2 separate regions of the Homo sapiens genome follow, and region 1 is linked to region 2. A link means that fine-mapping ties the variant in region 2 to the expression of a gene that starts in the linked region. Tissue or cell type: whole blood. Region 2 holds a variant in brackets; the other region holds the start of a gene. Each region is shown on its reference strand, or each on the opposite one.

Evidence for each region.
Region 1: it holds the start of FKBP8, and the variant in region 2 is fine-mapped to the expression of FKBP8 in whole blood (TOPMed, PIP 0.93).

Annotation. Positions count from the first base shown.
Region 1 is chr19:18,541,410-18,545,802 of GRCh38, reverse strand. It overlaps FKBP8 (FKBP prolyl isomerase 8), which reads left to right and starts at 2,230. Exons shown (of 9, transcript NM_012181.5): 1 at 2,230-2,317; 2 at 3,808-4,124. The coding sequence starts at 3,833. RefSeq lists a silencer at 1,985-2,414 and an enhancer at 3,977-4,393.
Region 2 is chr17:35,550,319-35,554,711 of GRCh38, reverse strand. It overlaps SLFN14 (schlafen family member 14), which reads left to right. Exons shown (of 6, transcript NM_001129820.2): 4 at 8-136; 5 at 1,268-1,982. It overlaps LOC107985033 (a long non-coding RNA gene), which reads right to left and starts at 1,507. Exons shown (of 2, transcript NR_138032.1): 1 at 1,221-1,507; 2 at 1-114. The variant G/C (reference allele first, on the strand shown) is at 1,728.

The DNA.
Region 1 (4,393 bases), not on the chromosome of region 2:
ATTGGGCCGGGCGCGATGGCTCACGCCTGTAATTTCAGCACTTTGGGAGGCCGAGGTGGGCAGATCACAAGGTCAGGAGATCGAGACTATCCTGGCTAACACGATGAAACGCTGACTCTACTAAAAATACAAAAAATTAGTCGGGCATGGTGGCAGGCGCCTGTAGTCCCAGCTACTTGGGAGGCTGAGGCAGGAGAATGGTGTGAACCTGGGAGGCGGAGCTTGCAGTGAGCCGAGATTGCGCCACTGCACTCTAGCCTGGGCTACACAGCGAGACTCTGTCTCAAAAAAAAAAAAAAAAATTAGCTGGACATGATGGTGCACCTGTGGGCCCAGCTACTCAGGAGGCTGAGGCAGGAGGATTGCGTGAGCCCAGGAGATAGACATGGTTGCAGTGATCTGAGATCGTGCCACTGCACTCCAGCCTGGGTTTCAAAGTAAGACCCTATCTCAAAAAAAAAAAGGCAGAGATATAAGTAAACTAGTTTGGGAAGCCGAGGCAGGCAGATCATGAGGTCAGGAGTTCCAGACCATCCTGGCCAACATGGTGAAACCCTGTCTCTACTAAAAATATACAAATTAGCTGGGCATGGTGGCGGGTGCCTGTAGTCCCAGCTACTCAGGAGGCTGAAGCAGGAGAATCGTTGGAACTTAGGAGGTGGATGTTGCAGTGAGCCGAGATCGCGCCACTGCACTCCAGCCTGGCGACAGAGAGAGACTCTGTCTCAAAAAAAAAAGAGAAAGAAAAAAAAAAAAAAGGCCAGGCACGATGGCTCATGCCTGTAATCTTTGGTACATCGAGGTGGGCGGATCACGTGAGGTCGGGAGTTTGAGACCAGCCTGACCAACATGAAGAAATCCCGTGTCTACTAAAAATACAAAGTTAGCCAGGCATGGTGGTGCATGCCTCTACTCCCAGCTACTTGGAAGGCTGAGGCAGGAGAATCGCTTGAACCTGGGAGGCAGCGGTTGCGGTGAGCTGAGATTGCGCCATTGCACTCCAGCTTGGGCAACAAGAGTGAAACTTCTTCTCAAAAAACAAAAACAAACAAACAAACAAAAAACCCAAGTAAACTAGTTATGAAGTGGACGTTCATCAACTTCATTGTGCCAAGACAGCTAAAGGGGGCACCTGGTCTTGCCTTGGGGAGGTTGGGAGGGCTTCCTGTAGGAGGTAACCTGGGAACTCCAACCTTAGAAGTGATCTCCAAAAAGCCAGTTACCACCTCCATGATAGCTACCTCCAAAAGCTGGTGTCTGACTCATCCATCCATCCATCCATCCATCCATCCATCCATCCATCCACCTACCCATTTATTGAGCTTCTATAGATGCCAGGCATGGTTCAAGGAGGTGCTGGGTACAAATCAGGTAAAAATCTCTGCCAGGATGAAGCAGAGTGAGGGATGGTCCCTCCAACCACAAGCAAAATAATGACAAGATAATTCTGGAAGGAGTAACTGCTAGGAAGGAAATAAAACTGAGTGAAGGAGGGAGAAGTGTCCCGGTTTCAAAACAAGATCCACAAAAACTTAGCTAATCAAGGATGCCACCTTCTTCCCGAGCCATGGGGACCTTATCACCCTCCAGCAGACAGTGCATAGAGGAGGAACTCCTCCCAGTGGCCCTGCTGGCTCAGTCGCCTGCGCAGCAGTAATCGAGCGCCTCCAGTATGCACCAGGCAACCTTCTAGACATTAAACTGTGTGGGGGATGGGAGGGAGGTTTCTGTATGCCTTTGGGCACGTCACTCCTCCTCAGGCCCTCAGGTTCACTTCTGTAACTAAGGCTTCAGGATGGGTCATTCAGCAACCCCAGAGCTGCCCTGCCCGTCAAGCTTGAACTCTTTAAGGAAATAACATTTAGAGTGGACTGTGCCCCCAGCAGCCCCCAAGGTGAGAGTGCATAGATGGGGGTGTTTATCCCCATTTCGCAGATGGTCAGGATGAAGCTCAGAGGAGAGGCAGGAGTCGCACAGGCTGCGCGATACTGACCCGTGTTGGGGTCCAGCCCAGGGTCCCCCGCCCCCGCCCCAGCCCCCGCCCCAGCCCCCGCCCCAGCCCCCGCCCCAGCCCCAGCAGCCGGGAGGCTTCGGTCCCTTTAAGAACGCCCCGCGGGGCCAAGCAGGAAGGGGGAGGTGCCAACGCCCGGGACGGACGTCTGCATGAGCCAACGGGTGCGGCAGTCGCGGCAGCGGCGGCCAATGGGCACGGCAGGGGCGGGGCCAAGCGGCCGAACCTGGTTCCCGAGGCGCGGCGGCCGCGGCTGGGGGCGGGGAGGGGGGCGCAGGACCCCAAGTGGGGGTCCCGGAGCCAGAGGCAAGTGTCCTGGGGTGCTGGGGGCGCCGTGCCGGCCGGGCCGCTGCCCTGGCCTAGGCTGGTCCGGGGGCTAGCGCGCCGGGGGCTGCGGCCGATGGGCGGGGCGAGGGGCCGCGGGGGTGGCGAGCCGGGGGGGCACGGGGGTCGGGGGTGCCCGAGGGGGCGCGGCCGGGCGGGGGTGGCCAGGGATGGGGGTCACTGGGGGCAAAGGGGATCCAGTGGGGGGGTCCCGATGGAGGCGTGCAGGGCCAGGGGCGCCCGAGGCGTGCGGGGGTCGGGTGCCCCAGACTGGTGGCGTCAGACAGGCGTGGGTCGTTGGGGGCCTGGGTCGCGGCTTGACTGAGGGCCCGGCCGGGGCTGTGGGGCGTCAGGAGAGCGTGGGGTGTTATGGGATCGGAAAGGGGGGGGCGTCTGGGGACACTGGAGTGTTTACGGCGAGACGGAGCGGCTGTGGGGGGAGCTGGCCCGTGCTGGGGGCGGTGGTGGTTGGGGTGGGGGGTGGGAGGGGAGGCCGAATTGTGCGGGCGCGGGGAATTATGGGGGTGGGGGCTGGGAGGGTCTCTCAAAGTGGGGCTCCGAGCCCGGGAGGAGCAGGCAGGTGAGGGTTAGGGAGGGGATGCGGCGGGCTGGTTTGATGGCTGTGCCACACTCTTCTGAGCTTGGGGCCTGGGGGACGGAGGGGTTGGTTATTGGTTCAGGAGGTCTGGGGCAAGGAAGAGGCTGTAGAATGTGGTGGGACCTCGACCACTCCTGGAAAGGAGGCTGCTTTGAGGGGGTGGGACCGAGGCCTGATGAGAGGAGGATGGTCTCCTGGGGAAGGATTTGGGCCAGGGTCCCTGATGTTGGGGTTGTGGGGGATAGTGTTAGATTCAGAGTGTGGAAGGAAAAAACGCTTGGGGTTTCTGGGTGATTACAGTTGGTGCTTTTGGGGAGGGTCTCCCCTTTGGAGAAGAGGCTGGAGGTGGGAGGCCCTGGTAAAAGATTCAATTTCCCCCAGTGGCCTTAGAGGCTCTAAAAATGGCTTCCCTAAGGCCTCGGAGGCTGTCCTCTCCACAAAAATCCCAGCACCCTTCGCTCAGCTTATAATCAGGCAAAGCCACAGGGCCTGAAGCCCCAGGTTCAAATCCTCCTTTGGCCTTTGGCTTTCTCTGTGACCTTGGGCAAATGCCTTTGCCCCTCTGGCCTGTTTCCTGTTCTGCAAAATGTTGAGGGGAATCTTCCCTACTTCCTGGAGTATTTGTAAACATTAAATAATAATTAGCTCTAATAATGGCTAACACTATTTGAGCCTGATGCCAAGGGCTTGATGCATGGGTTAATTTCTCCCAACAAGCTGGGGTTGTTGTTACACCCACTGTATAGATGAGGAAACTGAGGCCTGGAGCCCTTGAGTTACACAGAAAGTGATCGGCAGTGTGGGGAATCAGTACAGTGGAGACTTTGAGGGGCTGTGTAGGATTCTGACCCACATCTCTGCCCCCCACTTCCAGGGCCAATTCCTGTCCCCCCAGCAGCATGGCATCGTGTGCTGAACCCTCTGAGCCCTCTGCCCCACTGCCCGCCGGGGTCCCACCGCTCGAGGACTTCGAGGTACTGGATGGGGTTGAGGATGCAGAGGGTGAGGAGGAAGAGGAGGAGGAAGAGGAGGAAGAGGATGACCTGAGTGAGCTGCCACCGCTGGAGGACATGGGACAACCCCCGGCGGAGGAGGCTGAGCAGCCTGGGGCCCTGGCCCGAGAGTTCCTTGCTGCCATGGAGCCCGAGCCCGCCCCAGCCCCGGCCCCAGAAGAGTGGCTGGACATTCTGGGTAAGGAGCAAAGGTGGATCAGGGTGCCCTTGGCCCTGGCCCTCTCGTCCCCTGAGCCTCATTTCCCCATCTGTGCTGTGAGGGTTGGAAGTCACGTGGTCACCACCGTGATCACCAGCCAGAGGCAACTACTGGAGATGCTTCACATTGATGTACTCTATCCACTGACTCACACACATGCACAATGTGCTGTGTCCCCGTTTCCCAGATCTGCTAACAGTGGCTCAGAGAGGCTGAGTCACCTGCCCAGAGCCACACAGCCAGCACGC
Region 2 (4,393 bases):
TGTCTAGCTCCTCCCAGTTTGGTCACAGACTACAACTCTTGCCTGATTTCATCAGCTTCATCTGCACGAAAAAGTCCCGGATATCCCATAAAAGTCCACAAATTTAAGGAGGCTCTGCAACGACATTTGTTTCCAGGTATTCCCTCTTGATTTCAACTTAGGGGACTATTTGTTTTCTAAAATTGAGTTGGGAGGTGTTAGTAGTAATGAGTTCAGGTGTTTCTCCTTAGGGAAGGTCAAATGAAGGACTTAGCGACATAATGATCCTGAAATTTGAAATATATATATTATATATATAATATATATATGACTGAAAACAAGGGTCATATATATACTTATTTAAAATAATTATTAATATTTATTATTAATTTATTATATAATTATTATATATAATTATATATAATATTTATATATCTATATATCTGACCCTTGTTTCCAGTCATCTGATTCCCACTATTACTATTTCTGTGTGCCTTCCAACTTCTCATAACATATGGCTTTTGTTTTCCAAATTTGAGAGTGCAGGGAATTTCTCAGGTCTCAACCATCAAAAAACTGCCCCTAGCTTTCCAATGCAGAAGGAGCCATTGGGTTATCTGAACTTCTTCTAAAGCAGGGTTTCTCAACCTTAGCACTATTGTCATTTGAGTCAGATAACTCTTTGCTGGGGGAGGGAGAGCCCTGTGAATTGTAGAATACTTAGCAGCATTCCTATCTGGTACCTACTACATACCAGTAGCTCCCCTCCAATTGTGACAATAAAAAATTCTCAGGCCGGGCATGGTGGCTCATGCCTGTAATCCCAGCACTTTGGGAGGCCAAGGCGGGTGACCTCAACTGAGGTCAGGAGTTTGAGACCAGCCTAGCCAACATGGTGAAACGCTGTCTCTACTAAAAATACAAAAATTAGCCAGGTGTGGTGGCATGTGACTGTAATCTCAGCTACTCCAGAGGCTGAGGCAGAAGAATCACTGGAACCAGGGAGGCAGAGGCTGCAGTGAGCCAAGATCACACCACTGCACTCCAGTCTGGGTGACAGCGAGACTCCGTCTCACAAAAAAAGAAAAAATTTTCCAGACATTGCCAAATGTCCGTGGGGATGGGGGAGAGTTGGGGAGTAAAACTGCTCCTGATTAAGAATCACAATTCTAAAGGAAAGCTCTTATTTTCCCAAATGCACCAGGTATCATTTTTTTCTGCAACGTTGCAGGAATACTTACCACATGCTTTTGTAAGTTTTGGTAACATCTATTCCTTGAATTTTCAGTGACACAGGAAGAGGTACAATTTAAACCAGAATCCCTCTGTAAGAAGCTGTTCTCAGATCATAAAGAACTGGAGGGTTTAATGAAGACCCTGATACATCCTTGTTCTCAGGGGATTGTGATATTTTCTAGAAGCTGGGCTGGTGATGTTGGCTTCAGGAAAGAACAGAATGTCCTGTGTGATGCTCTCCTGATAGCAGTTAACAGCCCCGTGGTACTCTATACAATCTTAATAGACCCCAATTGGCCTGGAGGACTTGAATATGCCCGAAACACAGCTCATCAGTTAAAGCAGAAACTGCAAACTGTTGGTGGTTACACAGGGAAAGTGTGCATCATTCCAAGGCTGATACACCTGAGCAGCACACAGAGTAGACCTGGTGAGATCCCCCTGCGTTACCCCAGGTCCTACAGGCTTGCTGATGAGGAGGAAATGGAAGACTTGCTGCAGGCTCTGGTGGT[G/C]GTCTCCCTGTCCTCCAGATCTCTTCTGAGTGACCAGATGGGCTGTGAATTTTTCAACTTGCTCATAATGGAGCAGAGCCAGTTGCTTTCTGAGAGTCTTCAGAAGACACGTGAATTATTCATCTACTGCTTTCCAGGAGTCAGGAAGACAGCCCTAGCCATAAAGATCATGGAGAAAATTAAGGACTTGTTTCACTGCAAACCAAAAGAGATCCTCTATGTTTGTGAAAGCGACTCCCTAAAGGATTTTGTGACGTAAGAGTTTTACCAACTACACACACACAAAAATATGTATGTGTATATATATATGTGTATATATATGTGTATATATATGTGTATATATATATGTATATATATGTGTATATATATACACATATATATATATTCTTTTTGCAGTTGCAAGATTTAATAGAGTGAAAACAGAGCTCCCATACAAAGGGAGGGGACCCAAAGAGGGTAGCCGTTGCCAGCTTGAATGCCTGGGTTTATATCCCGATCATTGTCCCTCCTGCTGTGCTCTCAGGCAATAGATGATTGGCTATTTCTTTACCTCTTGTTTTTGCCTAATTAGCATTTTAGTGAGCTCTCTTTCTTATCTGATTGGTCGGGTGTGAGCTAAGTTGCAAGCCCCATGTTTAAAGGTGGAAGTGGTCACCTTCCCAGCTAGGCTTAGGGATTTTTAGTCAGCCTAGGAAATCCAGCTAGTCCTGTCTCTCAGTGCCCCCCTCAACAGGAAAACCCAAGTGCTATTGGGGAAGTTGGCCGACCACCGCTCTAACTGCTTCCTGCTGAATTGGGGCGTAGTAGGGGTTCTGCAGTTGAGATTTCCTCGGGAGGGGTGCCTTTGATGTCATTAACATTGGAGCATGGGCTAGCAGGCCGGTCCAGGGGTCCGTGGTAGATTTTACTCATGGATTGCATCTGGGGCTCCATTTGAAGAACCATTTGTAGCTTTGCAGCTTCGATTCTGGAAGAGACAAACTTAACAAGGAGGTTAAAGATACAGGGTCCAATTAACAAGGAGGTTAAAGATACAGGGTCCAAAGAGGAGTAACAATATTATAGCTGCTAGAGGTCCTAAGAAGGGGAGAATCCGGGGCATCCATTGGCTGAGGAGGCCCCAGGGGCCAGTGTTTTGAAGCTCCTCTGCTCTACGTTGTATTCGATCTCGAATTTCTTTAACTTTTTGGTGACGATTCCGGATTGATTAACATAATAACAGCATTCTTCCCCTAAAAATAAACAGGTTCCCCCTCTTTCGGCGGCTAGCAAGTCTAAAGCTCTTCTATTTTGAACGACTACTGCTGCTAGGGAGTTAAGTTGATCTTGCAAGGTGACCAGGGAGTCAGAGACCCGTTCCATGTCACCATTTAGTTCTTGAGATAGTTTGTAGTAGAACTGAATAGAGGTTGTGATACCGCCAGTGCCAGTACCTACTCCACCTAGCACTCCTGCTCCGATAACAAAAGGAAGAATGGGTACCCTTTTGTTGCGGGGCTTAGGTACGACATGATTGTATAAATCTTGTTCAGTGTAGATGGTCATAGGGGGCGCTAAGAATGAGAGGAAGCATATAGATTCTGAAGAGCCATTCAAACAACGATAGGCTGAGGTACCACAGACAAAAAATATTCCTGAGGGTAGGCAGACTATTCGTGTGGGAAGAGTTACCCACCTGATGTGCTGGGAGTTGGTTGCACACACACACAAAAATATATTTAGTCAGTCTTTTCAAGAGTGTCACAAAAGTGATTTGTGTTTTTAGTTTAAGTTTTTGCAGTGCCTTAGTTGCATAAGTGCAAGAGCCCAAACTATATACACATTTCCAAATAATCATGGAATTGAGCTGTAAACAGGTAATTTATAATGTTCAACCTTAAACATCTCATTATAAATAACCCACATGTGCATAACTTACATTTACAGAACCAGAAACTTTTTTTTTTCTCACAATCCATGGCCTTACATTTAAGAGAAGTAGAAATGAACCCATTCTGCTTTAAGTATACTTTCTGTTTGATATGTAATGTTTTAAAGTCATAGGGTATTTCTGCTAATTAGACATTGTACCTAGTGAAACTTGAATTTAAATACAGTTTGATTTTGTTCATAAAATATTTTCATTTTTGACTTGTTCTGCATCAGTAATTTTAGAAAATATGCAAATTCACTTCTGATTTAAATCTCTAACTTTTAATTTAGTAAAATGAATTGGTCATTATAGAATTCAGCAAAAGAGGGCAAAATCATTATGATTTTTGGCTTGGTTTTGTTATTCAATAAATCTTTTTGAGCACTGTTGATGTGGTATCTACTGTGCTACATTTAGTGTTAGAGGAGAAAACATATTGAAGACCTTGCCATAAAAAAAACAATGTGAGTATTGTATAATAATAAAGACATGCTCATTTTAATTAACTAATTAATTAATTTATTTTTGAGACGGAGTCTTGCTGTGTCAACCAGGCTGGAGTGCAGTGGCACGATCTCAGCTCACTGCAAACTCTGTCTCCTGGGTTCAAGTGATTCTCTTGCCTCAGCCTCCCGAGTAGCTGGGATTACAAGTGTGCATCACCACGCCTAGCTAATTTTTGTATTTTTAGTAGAGACGGGGTTTCACCATGTTGGCCAGGCTGGTCTTGAACTCCTGACCTCAGGTGATCCGC